Homo sapiens: one gene and its partner. The protein of the gene in region 1 interacts with the protein of each later gene in a biochemical or structural test. Each region holds a gene or a part of one and is shown in the gene's direction. Other genes may lie near its edges.

What was found. The genes of interacting proteins can lie anywhere in the genome.
Region 2: the proteins of NKX3-1 (region 1) and TOPORS form a complex in vitro, tested with the Homo sapiens proteins (one study listed by BioGRID).

Annotation. Positions count from the first base shown.
Region 1 is NC_000008.11:23,679,868-23,687,428, reverse strand, and holds the start of NKX3-1 (homeobox protein Nkx-3.1), read left to right. Parts: upstream 1-4,490; 5' UTR 4,491-4,539; coding exon 4,540-4,825; intron 4,826-5,789; coding exon 5,790-6,208; 3' UTR 6,209-7,561.
Region 2 is NC_000009.12:32,549,460-32,557,070, reverse strand, and holds the start of TOPORS (E3 ubiquitin-protein ligase Topors), read left to right. Parts: upstream 1-4,484; 5' UTR 4,485-4,591; coding exon of another isoform or gene 4,592-4,634; coding exon 4,635-4,637; exon of another isoform or gene 4,638-4,837; intron 4,838-5,263; exon of another isoform or gene 5,264-5,927; intron 5,928-6,102; coding exon 6,103-6,297; intron 6,298-7,611. Other genes in the region: NDUFB6 (NADH dehydrogenase [ubiquinone] 1 beta subcomplex subunit 6), read left to right, coding at 3,127-3,195; SMIM27 (small integral membrane protein 27), read right to left, coding at 4,148-4,270, 4,592-4,636. UniProt on the Homo sapiens protein: Functions as an E3 ubiquitin-protein ligase and as an E3 SUMO1-protein ligase. Probable tumor suppressor involved in cell growth, cell proliferation and apoptosis that regulates p53/TP53 stability through ubiquitin-dependent degradation.

The DNA of each region.
Region 1 (7,561 bases):
GCAAATTACCATAAAGTTAGTGGCTTAAAACAATGCACATTTATTATGCTATGGTTCTGGAGATCAGAAGCCCACACTGGCTTATTGGGCTAATATCAAGGTGTCATCAGGGTTGTGTTCCTTCTGGTGGCTCTAGGAGAGAATCCACTTCTTTTCTTTCCCTGCTGCCTGCATCAGTTGGCTCCTGGCCTCCTTGCACCCTCAAAGCCAGCAAGGGCCAGTTGAGTCTTTCCCACAGTTGACTCTTTCTAGCCTTGCTTCAGTTGTCATATCTTGTCTGACTCTGATTCTCTGGCCTCATACTTGTACTGATAAAGACCCCTGTGACACAACAGGCCCATTTGGATAATCCAGAATAACCTTCCCATCTCAGGATCAGCGGACCAGCAAACCTAATTCCATCTGCAGCATTAACTTTCGCTGTCTATTTACATAGCATATTCACAGAATCTGGGGACTAGGGGTTGGTCATCGCTGGAAGGGGGCATTGTTCTGGGCTGCAGCCCCTGAGTGTCTCCAGATTGCCTTGCACATTTTCACCCGGTTTAAACTGCATAAACACAGCAAGGGGAGGAGGACGAGCCTTCCACTGTGATTTGCCTGGGGGTCCTTTGGCCCCTTATGGATAATTCCGCTAGCCAGTGAGATGTGTCATAACAACTGGAGCTGGACATTGAGCCAGCAAGCACTTATGGAGCGCCTTCTGTATGCCGAGAACTAAGCCAGACTTTAGAGATGGTACAAATATGAGGAGGATACAGTCCCTTCTCAGGGAGCTCATAGTCTCATAAAGAAGATGAGCCATCCACACCCCCAAATACAAAGCACAAGGGGAGAAAAGATGCAGTGAGGTGAGGCCGAGGACCACGAGCTGTGGCCCCACTCACAGGCCTGAGGAGGACGCGGTGGAGGAGGGCAGTCCAGGCTCAGCTCCAACTTGATATTTTTCATTTTTTAAAATTATCAATGAGTACAAGGAAATACACCCTGTTCCACTATCCTCCTGTCCCTCTCCCAACCTACTGTCTCCATCTCACTGAGCAGAGGTAACTACTCTATGGAAAAAAAGAATACATATGTATAAATCTTGTTCCTGATATATTCTGTATGTTAAAGTGTTCAAATGAAAAACATTATATAGGTAACTTATAGTGCTGTTTTATACAATGGGTTTCATCTATAACATGCTTTGCAGCTTGAACCAGTCTCTGACCAAATTGAAGATATGTTCCCAAGTCAATACATTGTGTATTTGTGCACTTCTAGGGCACATTGCCAAACACAGAATAGCTGTGTCAAAGGATATGCTCAGTTTTAATTTTGACAAATATTCCCAAGTTGTCATCCAAAAACAGTCATGCATCCTTAGGGACAAGAATATGTTCTGAGAGATGCAATGTTAGGCAATTTCATTGCTGTGCAAACATCATAGAGCTACTTACACAAACTTAGATGGATGTAGTCTACTACACACCTAGGCTACATGGTATGCCCTATTGCTCCTAGGCTACAGACATGTACAGCATGTTACTGTACTGAATACTGTAAGCAAAGGTAATACAATGGTAAGAATTTGTGCATGTAAACATATCTAAACATAAAAAGGTACAGTAAAAATACAGTATCATAACCTTATGGAACCACCGTCATATATGCTGTCTGTCACTGATCAAACGTCACGATGCAGTGCATGGCTGTATGAGAGCAGCTGTTCCTCCACACTCTCACTTACACTGGACATTATCCATTTTTTTTAACCTTTGTCAATCTGAAAGGTGGAAAAGGCTCGTCTCAATGTGATTTTGATTTGCATTCCTTCACTGATGAAGTGTAGTTAAAATATTTTTTTCACGTGCTCGTTTGTGTTTTACATCTTTGAGCTGTCTGGAATTTATTTTGTCATAAGAATAGGACTTTATCTTTTCCAAATGGCAGCACTTGTTATTAAATAATTCATACCCAACTCTCAATTTTAGAAATAAAAGGAGGCCATCTCAATCTAAACCTCACACTATATACAAAAATTAATTCTGAAGGAATCATGGATTGAAGAGTAAAGCATAAAACTTTTAGAAGATAACATAGGAGCAAATCTTCAGTATTAGGACTAAACAAAGAGTTCTTAGGCAGGACATCAAAATCACATTCTGTAAAATTCAAAAATTCATAAATTGATCTTCAATGAAATTAAAATCTTTTGTTCTGTTGAAGATCCTGTTAGAGGGATGGAAACACAAGCTACAGACTGGGAGATAATATTTGCAAATAACCTACCAAACAAAGACTTACAAACAGCAATATATAAAGAACTATCATAACTCAATGGTTAAAAAATAAAAGAAAGAAAAATTCAATTATAATATGAGCAAAAGGCTTGAACAGATATTTCACCAAAGAGGAAATATGGATGGCAAACAAGCACATGACAAGGTATTCAACATCTCTAGGCATTTGTGAAATGCAAATTAAAAATTTAAACCACAATAAGGCCCAGCACAGTGGCTCACACCTGTAGTCTCAGCACTTTGGGTGGTGGAGGCGGAAGGATTGTTTGAGCCCAGGGCTTTGAGACCAGCCTGGGCAACAGGGTGAAACCTTATCTTTACAAAAACTACAAAAATTAACTGGGCAGGGTGGCACACACCTGTAGTCCCAGCTATTCAGGAGGCTGAGGTGGGAGAATCTCCTGAGCCCAGGAGGTTGAAGTTGCAGTGAGCCATGATCTCTCCACTGCACTCCAGCCTGGGCAACAGAGCAAGACCCTATCTCTAAATAAATAAATAAATGACGTCTGTAGTCTAGTTAACTGTAATGTCCCAACGTAAATTTCCTGTTTTCTACATTGTCCTACAGTTGTATAGATGTCTTTGGAGGACACTGGAGGTATTATTTTTGCAACTTCCTGTGAATCTACAATGATTCAAAAGAAAACATTAAAGAATGTTCTAATATAAAGAGACTTTGAAAAGATGAGAGAAGAAAACCAGCTTTGCCAAAGTCTTTCCCGTTGCACAGGTAGTTTTCTTTGGCGGTCGCTTTATCAGCAATAACCTATTAACTTTCCTTCCTCCAGAGACACATGACATACCATCCTTTTGAAAAGTTGCCAGTTGAATAGAAGCCGTCTTAGACCAGGACAGACAAAAAAGTTGCATTAAAAAAATGGTTCTAAAAAACATCAGCCTACCCTTTTTCCAGATTACCAACTGTTACCATTTAACCCATCGGCTTTATGGCGTGGGATCTATCAATCTGCATCCTTGTTTCAGAACCATTTGATGTAAGTTTCATAAATCTTGTGCCTTTGCTCCTACTTACTTCAGTGTTTATTTCCTAAAAATATTCTCTTGTACACTGACAGTACAATGTGCAATTTCAGTAAATTTAACATTAATTCAATACTTCCATCATCGACCTGACACTGAGACTCATGCCTGTAGTCCTGGCACTTTGAGAGGCCAAGGCAGGAGGATCACTTGAATCCAGGAAATCGAGGCTGCAGTGAGTTATGATGGCATCACTGCACTCCAGCCTGGGCGGCAGAGGGAGACCCTGTCCGTAAAAAAAAGAAGAGAAAAGACAAGGAAAGAAAATACTTCCATCATCTCTGTTCCACTTTCGTCTGTTGTCACGGTACCGTCCAGTCCAGTCACAGTACCGGTTGGACCAATCTGGCTAACCCATTGTTTAGCCAATGGGTTACATGTTAACAGTTGGTAATCTGCAAAAAGAGTATGCTGATGTTCTTTTGAACTACTTTTTTAAATGCAGTTTTTGCATTTGTCCTGGCCTAAAACGCCTTCCATCCGTCTGGAAACTTTTCAAAAGGATGGTATGTCATGTGTCTGGGGAGGAAGGAAAGTTAACAGGTTATTGCGGATAAAGGAACCACCAAAGAAAACCACTTCTGCAACGGGAAAAGGCTTTGGCAAAGGTGTTTTCCTTCTTTCAGCCTGGGGTCTGGCTGCACCTACTTGTCATGCCTCTTTGAGGTCGTAGATATTGCAGATCTGAGTTTGCACCATCTCTCCCAGAGAGAGAGAGCACCCAGAACTCTCACGGTACCGCGCGGCTGCAGTGACTGCGTGCTCATCCCCTGTAATTGGCTCTGACGGTCCTGAAGAGCTAACTGGACTGTTTGTCTTGATCGTCCCATCCCCAGGAGCTTCTCTCTGTTGCGGGTGGGTTGGGGCAGAGGAGCCCCGCTTTGGGGTGCGCTCCTGGCCTGGGAAAACGGCTCAGGGCGGAGGGAGGAGAGCTGGAGAAGGAGAGGAAATTGGGGAAGGAGAGGGAATTGGGGAAGGAGAGGGAACTGGGGAAGGAATCCCCTAGGGAGGAGCGGAGCGGGGCAGTGCTCAGGGCTCGCAGATCGGCGGGGTCACCTGGGGCTCAGGGCGGCCAATCCGCGGCGCGGCCCGTCCCGCGGCCAATGGGAGGGCGGCGCGGCCCGCTCCCCTGGGCTATAAGCGAGCCGGGAGGCGGAAAGTGAAAGCGGTGCGGGCCGGGCGGGTGCATTCAGGCCAAGGCGGGGCCGCCGGGATGCTCAGGGTTCCGGAGCCGCGGCCCGGGGAGGCGAAAGCGGAGGGGGCCGCGCCGCCGACCCCGTCCAAGCCGCTCACGTCCTTCCTCATCCAGGACATCCTGCGGGACGGCGCGCAGCGGCAAGGCGGCCGCACGAGCAGCCAGAGACAGCGCGACCCGGAGCCGGAGCCAGAGCCAGAGCCAGAGGGAGGACGCAGCCGCGCCGGGGCGCAGAACGACCAGCTGAGCACCGGGCCCCGCGCCGCGCCGGAGGAGGCCGAGACGCTGGCAGAGACCGAGCCAGGTAAGCGGCGAGGCCGGGGAAGGGGGGCAGCCCAAGGCGGACCCCCAGAGCTCGGGGTGCAGGGACGCGGGGCTCCGCGGCGACAGGCAGAGGGACCTTCCCGCCTCCGCAGCCACGCGCGCGCCCCCGGAATGAACCCTGAGCCCCAGCGTCAGGGCGGCGCAGGATTCTGACACCGCAGGACTCGCCCGGCTCCGTGCCCTCCGCTCCCTGGGGCTCAGAAGCCGGCGCGACTGCAGCGCCACCGCCCTCCACCGTCCCAGGAGCGGATCCCGCCCCGCGCCACCCGCGATCGGCGCCAGCCCCCCGGTAGTTATGAGAACTAATAATAACTTATTAACAGTGACAAAGCAGGGGTTGACCAGCAAAGCCTCCGTGTGCTTCCCAATCCCGTGGGCAGTAAAGCGGTATATTCGGGGTTCCCTCCGGTGTCCAGGAGAGAGAGTCCACTTATTTTCTTTCCTGTCACTTCTGATGAGGCGACCGAACGCCTCGTTTAGCGAAGAGGGAATTAAAGCCCAGAATGAGCCTGCCTCTGCGTCTCCAGTGGCACAAGCCCTCTCTTGCCCACCTGGATCCTAACACCGGATGTCTTTTGGTCTGGCCTTCCCGGGTATCTTGTTCCACGGCATTTTCCCTGCCTCCCTCTCCCGCCTCTCCTCAGCACACAGATCCAGAATCCCCATATAATTCTACTAGACAGTAGGGAGAAAGTTCAACCACGAAACGTCTCTAACTTTGGGTTCTTGATGATTCTTAGCAAATGAATGCGTAATAAACATATTTACTCACTCTTCACTCCGGAGAGCTCCTTAGTCATGTGAAAAAAGTGAAATGTATCCACGATGACAGTGGGCTGTTTGTTCACTCACTAAAGAGATAAGGGTGGATTGAATTCTGTTCTCTTCCCTGCTAACATGTAACTTTTGTCTTCCCATCCCTCCTTCCCCACTCTCCTTTCCAGAAAGGCACTTGGGGTCTTATCTGTTGGACTCTGAAAACACTTCAGGCGCCCTTCCAAGGCTTCCCCAAACCCCTAAGCAGCCGCAGAAGCGCTCCCGAGCTGCCTTCTCCCACACTCAGGTGATCGAGTTGGAGAGGAAGTTCAGCCATCAGAAGTACCTGTCGGCCCCTGAACGGGCCCACCTGGCCAAGAACCTCAAGCTCACGGAGACCCAAGTGAAGATATGGTTCCAGAACAGACGCTATAAGACTAAGCGAAAGCAGCTCTCCTCGGAGCTGGGAGACTTGGAGAAGCACTCCTCTTTGCCGGCCCTGAAAGAGGAGGCCTTCTCCCGGGCCTCCCTGGTCTCCGTGTATAACAGCTATCCTTACTACCCATACCTGTACTGCGTGGGCAGCTGGAGCCCAGCTTTTTGGTAATGCCAGCTCAGGTGACAACCATTATGATCAAAAACTGCCTTCCCCAGGGTGTCTCTATGAAAAGCACAAGGGGCCAAGGTCAGGGAGCAAGAGGTGTGCACACCAAAGCTATTGGAGATTTGCGTGGAAATCTCAGATTCTTCACTGGTGAGACAATGAAACAACAGAGACAGTGAAAGTTTTAATACCTAAGTCATTCCTCCAGTGCATACTGTAGGTCATTTTTTTTGCTTCTGGCTACCTGTTTGAAGGGGAGAGAGGGAAAATCAAGTGGTATTTTCCAGCACTTTGTATGATTTTGGATGAGTTGTACACCCAAGGATTCTGTTCTGCAACTCCATCCTCCTGTGTCACTGAATATCAACTCTGAAAGAGCAAACCTAACAGGAGAAAGGACAACCAGGATGAGGATGTCACCAACTGAATTAAACTTAAGTCCAGAAGCCTCCTGTTGGCCTTGGAATATGGCCAAGGCTCTCTCTGTCCCTGTAAAAGAGAGGGGCAAATAGAGAGTCTCCAAGAGAACGCCCTCATGCTCAGCACATATTTGCATGGGAGGGGGAGATGGGTGGGAGGAGATGAAAATATCAGCTTTTCTTATTCCTTTTTATTCCTTTTAAAATGGTATGCCAACTTAAGTATTTACAGGGTGGCCCAAATAGAACAAGATGCACTCGCTGTGATTTTAAGACAAGCTGTATAAACAGAACTCCACTGCAAGAGGGGGGGCCGGGCCAGGAGAATCTCCGCTTGTCCAAGACAGGGGCCTAAGGAGGGTCTCCACACTGCTGCTAGGGGCTGTTGCATTTTTTTATTAGTAGAAAGTGGAAAGGCCTCTTCTCAACTTTTTTCCCTTGGGCTGGAGAATTTAGAATCAGAAGTTTCCTGGAGTTTTCAGGCTATCATATATACTGTATCCTGAAAGGCAACATAATTCTTCCTTCCCTCCTTTTAAAATTTTGTGTTCCTTTTTGCAGCAATTACTCACTAAAGGGCTTCATTTTAGTCCAGATTTTTAGTCTGGCTGCACCTAACTTATGCCTCGCTTATTTAGCCCGAGATCTGGTCTTTTTTTTTTTTTTTTTTTTTTTTTTTCCGTCTCCCCAAAGCTTTATCTGTCTTGACTTTTTAAAAAAGTTTGGGGGCAGATTCTGAATTGGCTAAAAGACATGCATTTTTAAAACTAGCAACTCTTATTTCTTTCCTTTAAAAATACATAGCATTAAATCCCAAATCCTATTTAAAGACCTGACAGCTTGAGAAGGTCACTACTGCATTTATAGGACCTTCTGGTGGTTCTGCTGTTACGTTTGAAGTCTGACAATCCTTGAGAATCTTTGCATGCAGAGGAGG
Region 2 (7,611 bases), on another chromosome or scaffold:
GCCTGGCCAACATGGTGAAACTCCATCTCTACTATTAATAAAAATACAAAAATTAGCTGGGCATGGTGGTGCACGCCTGTAATCCTAGCTACCGGGGAGGCTGAGGCACAAGAATTGCCTGAACCTGGGAGGCAGAGGTTGCAGTGAGCCAAGATTGCGCCACTGCACTCCAGCCTTAGCGACAGAGCACCCTGCCTCAAAAAAAAAAAAAAAAAAAAAAAAAAGTAGGGGATTTCTCCTTTTGTTTTATTGTGTAACATTGATGTGTGTTACAGCCTAGGTAGTCTCAAAATAGGAAATTATCTTGCTGGTTTTTCCAGCTGGGCAATTTATATTTATTTAGTCTTCCATTTATTCCATTTAAATGTTAATTTATTTTGCCATTTACTGTTCAAAGGAAAAGGAGAGCTCTATTCAGAAGACCATATCAGGGATCCTGTAGCATTTCTCATATTTCTGTATTTTTTGCCACTGTGGTTCTTTCTTGTTTCTGTGCCATGACCCCTTTGAGGAACTGAAGAATGCTCATTGTATATATGTTTAGAATAGGACAAGTAATAACAAACTTCCAAATCTCAATGGCTTAACAAAACAGAGGTTTATTTCTTGTTGACATCACAGACTACTGTGAATCAGGTGATCTTCCTCAATCTTACAGCCGTGCCTATCGAATATGAGGTTCCAAGATTGTGATACAAAGATACGGCAGGATGTCTCAGGGGATGATTTTTAGGATCTAAGCTTAGAAGTAGCTTACATCACTTCTGCTCAAATTCTGTTAGCTAAAACTCACTGTCATCTTCCCAAATATTATCTGTGTGCTCTTTGCTATTTCCCAGACCCCTGTTCATGGAGTTTCTGCTACATTCCATCTTTCTAGTCACCAAACAGCTCTTGGCTTCTTTCTTTACCCATGCATAACACACTTAGTCTCTCTCCTTAGGGAGAAATCCCAAAGTCCCATTCCATCATTGCACCCCGGCCCCAAATCCATGATCTCCAGATGATGTAAAATAGTATGTCAGGTTTATATATGACTTCTGTTGATCTGAGGATCAGTGAACTAAGAAGACAAGTTAACTGTATCCTTGTCCCCCAACCACACCCATTGTTCAGTGGTAGAATTTGGATAGCATAGTAGTCACTGGTTCTTGGCAATCCTGAAATCTCACTCCTAACCCGTGTGTGAGAAATTACTTGAATGGGCACTGATTTTGTTTTCTTGAAAGAACACCTTTATCCATCGTTCTTCCTGGTTCCTGGCTCTGTCCAGGGGGTTTGTTCTTTTCATTATCTACCTAGACCACATCTAAATGGTATTGGGAAGCATGCCCTCCTTAGGGGGCTGTATGGGCTTCAGAATCTGCCACCTGCTTGCAGGAGGTTGAATGCCAGAGGTTGTTTTAATTTCAAACATTCTGGCAGGATTCTGTAAACTATATGTTTGGTTTGTCCATCCATTTCCCTTAACATTTAGAAGCATGAAAAGAAAAATATTTGGTAGACATCTAATGTGTTTACTTCTAGTCAGTGTCTCATGCCAGTATCTGTTTTTCCTATACACAGTTACCAGCTTGTCTCATTTCTTTGTCCTTATGCATCTGCCTCTCTCACCTCTGTGGCAGCTATGTGGAGGCCATCTGAGGCAGACTGGTTCAAAGGCTACCTTCATTTTAAACTGATCTTTGCCATAGGGCTGTGTCCCTCTGTTTGAGTTTTATTGGGCTTCTGTTGCTCAGATTTCTTGTGTTAACTTATTGTTTAGGAATTCTGAAGTAGTGTGATTTTTCAATACCACAAGGTCCTGATTTTTTATTTATTTTTTAGATACAGGGTCCTACTCTTGCTCAGGCTGGTTTTGAACTCTGGGCCTCAAGCAATCCTCCTGCCTTGGACTCCCAAAGTGCTGGGATTACAGGCATGAGCCACCATGACTGGCCCAAATTTTTAGATTCTATTAACTTTTTTTTTTTTTGGTCAGGAACAGAAAGTCTCTAGCGTGCACCAAAGTGTTCTCTCGTCCTCTCCATTTTTATGTCGCCTCTCAAATCAGCCACTTTTTGCCTGAGCTCATGCTTCTTAAAGTACATTCCCAAGGCATCCAAGGATCCCAAGGATCCAAACACATACTATAACTTTTTTTCCCAGCTACTTCTTCTAGAACCTCAAGTTCATTAGGCAGTCAGCTTCCAAGTTATAGGAGATATTTTGCTAAATAGTTTGCCACTGCCTTTTGTTTCCATCTTTATCTTTGCTACCAGACTGCTAAGCCAGTGCCCTATAGCTTGATTTTTATTACAGCAGCATTAGTGCCACTTCAAGGCAATGATTTCTATTGGGATAATGCTAGCTGTACTAACAAATTGTTGCCCAAATGTATAATGGCATAAACATATTTATTTTTTCATTGGACTATAATCCTGAGCAGTACCAGGTCAGGGAATGGCAGGGATTGGGGTGGGTATGGGGACAATTCTACTCTTCCCAGTCATTCAGGGACTGGCAGGCTAACAGAATCTATCTTAAACACATGGCTGAAACTGAAATTGAATAATCTGTCTTAAAACTATACAGCTTGTCAGTGGAGGTTCCAAGATTCTTACCACTTGGTTCTGGCTTCAATGCCCATGCCTTTTTGCCCACATCTATATCAAGAATTGAAAAGACATCTGGACCAGCTGCCTAGCCAAAGTTTGTATTCTGTATTCAGTATGTAAGCCAATCAGAAAACTGGTGATTGCGTAACACATTCAGTTGCTGGGGGTACATTACCTCCTTATCTGGAACTGCAGATGTTTCCTTGCAACTTCTTTCTGGGGCCTCCATTTATTGGGGTCATACAAAATAAAAGATTATCCCTTTATCACTTAGAGAACACAATTTTCGTGCCCTTTTTGATTATTTTGTTTCTGAGTGAAAATTTCCCTATTATTTCACTATACCTTAAAATTTTGAATACTGATTGTTCAGATTTAGTCAGCTTCTACTTTGTCTAGGGTCCTTTTAAAGGGAATGCCAGAACTCAAGTACATTTTCCATGTGAGATCTGATGAACATAGAACAGAATAGAACTATCACCTCTGTAGACTTAAGATTTTTGTACTAACTGTATCTTTGTTTTCCTAGGGTGATACAATTCTGGAGACTGGAGAAGTAATTCCACCAATGAAAGAATTTCCTGATCAACATCATTAAAGATTATGTAAAAAGTTAAAAGGCTTATGAGCCTAAGTTTGTTCCTATATTACCATATTTACTGAATTTTCTGGAAAAGTAACTTTAATAAAGTTTAATCTCAGAAATTGTCATATCTGTTTTCAAGCATTGTACAATTTGAGACTGAGTAATTTAACAATAAGTAAAAAGTGGACATGCTAAACAAATATGAGAGACTACCTACTTTTTCTGGTCATTCTTGACTTGGAAAACGGTATGGAAAAGTATTTAGTTACATGTTTGTTTGTTTTTTTCTTACACAGTACTTACACTAATTTGGTATCAGGGTATGCAACAGTGAAATATCACAATAAACAAATGTAAGAACAGCAATTCCATGCACTTTTGTTTTAAGGAAATCTTTCCGGCCAGGCGCAGTGGCTCATGCCTGTAATCCCAGCACTTTGGGAGGCCGAGGCGGGCAGATCACGAAGTCAGGAGATCGAGACCATCATGGCTAACACAGTGAAACCCCGTCCCTACTAAAAATACAAAAAAATTAGCCGGGCGTGGTGGCGGGCTCCTGTAGTCCCAGCTACTGCGGAGGCTGAGGCACGAGATTGGTGTGAACCCAGAAGGCGGAGCTTGCAGTAAGCCGAGATAGTGCCACTGAGCCTGGGCGACAGAGCAAGACTCCGTCTCAAAAAAAAAAAAAGCTTTCCGAATCATTTTTGAAGAATTTAGAAACTTGATTGAAAAGCTTATTCCAACTATGATCTGACACTCAAGACTGTCAGATTTAGGTTGCTGTTAATTTTGTCATGAGAATGTAAAATACTAAAATCTCTAAGTGAAAAATTTGCATACTAGTGCTTGTTATAAAGGATAATGCAAAAATAAACTTGGGAACTTTGCATTATGAATTTTATTTTTATATCTACATAAGCATGAGGGAAAGAACTGTATTTTCAGATAATTAAATCCAGAAGAGTTACAAATTTTCATTCGTCCCAAAGATTTTGTCTGGGTATTTCTTCCTTAGCTGTCGTCTTGCAGACACCATCGAAGCATAGATGATGCAGCCCCAGGAGATTAAAACGATGGCAAGCAGCAACTAAACCAAAAATCGCAAAGGAGGTGTGAAATCTACCTGATATTTCCCCTCGCCCCCGTCAGGTTACCGTTGCCATTGCTAAGGTGGGAATTAAAGTAACAAAGTCGAATAAATGGGGTTCCAGTGGCGGGTACACCCAGCAGCCCTTACGTAAGAAGCGGAAGATCGTATCCTCCAGGAAGAGGCGGAGTCGAGGTGAGGGAGTGAAATGCTTAATTCAGGAATGGATTTTGGAGTTTCTGGGTGCTGAAGAAATAGGGCCTTTCCGCCTGCGGGCCCAGTGAGTCGACACGGTGGGGGCCCGCGATCCCCGGGACTTACCACTGAATAAATCCAGTCCAGCGTGCGACGACTTACTGGCTTCATGGTAAGGAGGCGGCAGCAGTCCGCGGGAGCTGGCGGGAGCTGCGGGCCTTACAGTAACCTCCCAGGCGGTGGCTGCCAGGCGCCAGCAGCCATCTTTTAGCCGGGCACGAGCGCCCGCCCACTCGCTTCGTGCAGCGCTGTCGCTGGCCTCTTCCGCCCGGAGTTGGGGGGCGGTATCACGTGATCGGGGGCCTTGCCCGCCTTTTAGAGAGGGGAATAAACGAGAAAATGTTAAAAATTGCTTTTTTTTTTTTTTTTTTGCCAACTAAGGAGATAGGCGTACCTCCACTGGTTTTCTTTCTAGTTGCAATGCAATATTAATGCAGGATAAGGTGCTGTCGTGTCCATTTAAAAGTTAATTTGAAAAACAATCCACGTTTTAAATATTACGTCTGGCTCTAAAGCTGGAAGAATTAACGCTTTCTCCCCCGCTCCCTCCCCCACGCCTCCCCGCATCTGATACCACACGATTTAGATGGACGTTCGCCTGTTCATCTTTGACGTAAAAATACCACCCACTCTTTTATATGTGACAAATCGTTGTGGGAACCCCTGTAAATCGAGCCATTCTTCAGAAACGTATAGCGTAATGTATATCTCTAAGAAGAAATACGTGGGACGCGTTACCCGCCATAATGTATCAGTCAAGCAACAAGTGTTTGTTGAGCGTGTCTGATGTTCTTGAACTGCCGCGCGTGAGATACTAAGCCCCGAGCACGGCAGTTTGGTGGGCGAGCGTACCAGGTTCAGCTCTAGAATGTTTGGGGCGCTCACATTTGAGGCCTGAGGAGTAGAATCTGGCAACGGGCCGCTTAGGCTCTAGACGTTCTTTATACCTCGCAGTTATCTTAAAAGAGTTTTAGTCTAGATTTCAGGGAGTGGGAAGGGGAAGAGCGGAGAAAAACGTGGTCTGTTTAGGGAGGAGTCCAGGCCCTGTTTTGTTAGGTTGTCCTGTTTCTCCCCAGCCTGGAGGGGATCCCTCTCTGAAGACTTTATAGGATACTGGTTGGGCTCTGGTTTGGGATCCCGTTGGACTCCTGGTGTTGCTTCCGGGAGGCGTACAACAGGAGGTGAGAGACTTCAAGTCCATCTAACAATTCCCCTATCTAGACACTAAAGATAATTTCCTAAGTTTCCGCAGAGTTTGGTAAGGTTGAAACGACATCGAACTAGTTCTCGTGTTTTCCGGGTAAGTTAGGGGCGAACATTCAGTCAGTGTCCCCAGTGGCTGAGTACCAGTAACAAGATGGGGAGGGTCGCGCTGCCCTCCTCCGGGGTCTGGAGCGGCGGGGGAGGGGCCGCATTTGGGCCGGTGCGCTGAGCCCCGCCCCCGAGGCCGGCGTCCATCTGCTGCGCATGCGTGAGGAAGGCGGGTGTTGTGTTTTGATGCGCGGGAGCTGGGGGGTGGGTCTCGCTCTCTGCCCTGCTTCCGAGCTGCCATTGGTGATGAGCCCTTTGCGTCACAGGGGTCGCAGCCGCCGCTGGGGTCTCCGCTGTCTCGCGAGGAGGGTGAAGCGCCCCCGCCTGCTCCCGCTTCGGAGGGTAGGCGGAGAAGTCGCCGGGTACGCCTTCGCGGATCCTGCCGACACCGACCTAGCTTTCTGGGCTGCCGGGAGCTCGCGGCGAGCGCCCCAGCCAGGCCTGCGCCGGCATCCTCCGAGGTGAGTGAGATTCGGAACAATGGGACGCGGGGGTCGGAAGGGCCGTGGGAGTTGGCGCTCCCGCCTGGAGCGGCGCCTCGGGACCCGAGGGTTGCGGTCATGGCCTGCGGGGCTGTCCGGGCCTCGGCGGGCCAGGGCCAGGGCCCCCGAGCGGCTCCTGCGCGCACCTGTGGATTGGTGCGGGCAGGCGAGGGTTGCGCTTCCCACAAGCGCTCCCGAGGGGCGCGAGCCTGGCCGTGTACTGGAAAGAGCTTGGTCTCAGGGAAAAGCAAAAAAGCAATGAGACTGAATCGTGGCGTCACCACTTACAGGATATGTGACCTTGCCTAGGTCCCTTAAATCCCTGAGCCTGTCTGTAAAATGGGAATAACAATATTTAAGTTCGTTGTGGTTATGTAATGCTCATGGTGCTTATCTTAGTCTAGTGGCAGTTCTGAACCAAAGTAAACGACTATCACCGTGGCTTTGGGAGTTGGGACTTGTCTGTGTTGTGTTAAACATTCTGAGCAGAAATTGCCCGTGACTTGTTCATCCATCCATTTACTGCAGCTTTCCTCATGGGTTGCTGATTGTAGGCTGGAAGGGGGCAGTGCTGAGATGAGCCACATAGTGATTTAAGAGGAAAACGGAGTAGACCTTTTGATAGGTAATTTTCAAGATTATTTAAGATAAATTAAGAAACAGCTGCCCAAGATTTAAGTTAATAGTGGTGAGAGCTTTCTGGGTTTTGTCCATGAAATGCAAAGAAAGCTATACAATCAGCTAAAATCAATCATACTTGTCTGGAATGAGTGGTTTTAGAGGCGAACGGTTCCCAGCCAATTCTTTTTGCTGGAATTGGATTAAATTTGATAGGATCTGGATAAATTTGATAGGATCTACTGAGATCCTGTGACTTTTGTATCTTCTTTTGGAGTTGATTAAATGCAGTTCAGAGAGGTACAGTGATTTCTTTAAGGTGGCAAGAGGTAGGAACCAGTTTATTTTTAATACTTGGGTGATCTTTCTATTTCATCTATTCGTGAACCCTTTTTAGTCACTTTGCCTAGAAATATTAAGTATAATAATTATATTAAGTATGATGATTATTTTGTTGTTATAAACTATCCTCTGTCTGGACCCATATAATCAGTTATGGGTGATGAGCTACCGAAATTCACTTCGTGTTCACGTAACATAGAGAACATTGTTGAGTTCTTACTGTGCATCAAGCACTGTGCTAAGGGTTTTTATGAAATATGTCCCGTCACACAACCACCTTTTCAATTCCATTTTAGAATTGAGAAAACGTGAGATTTTGAGAAAAAACTTCCT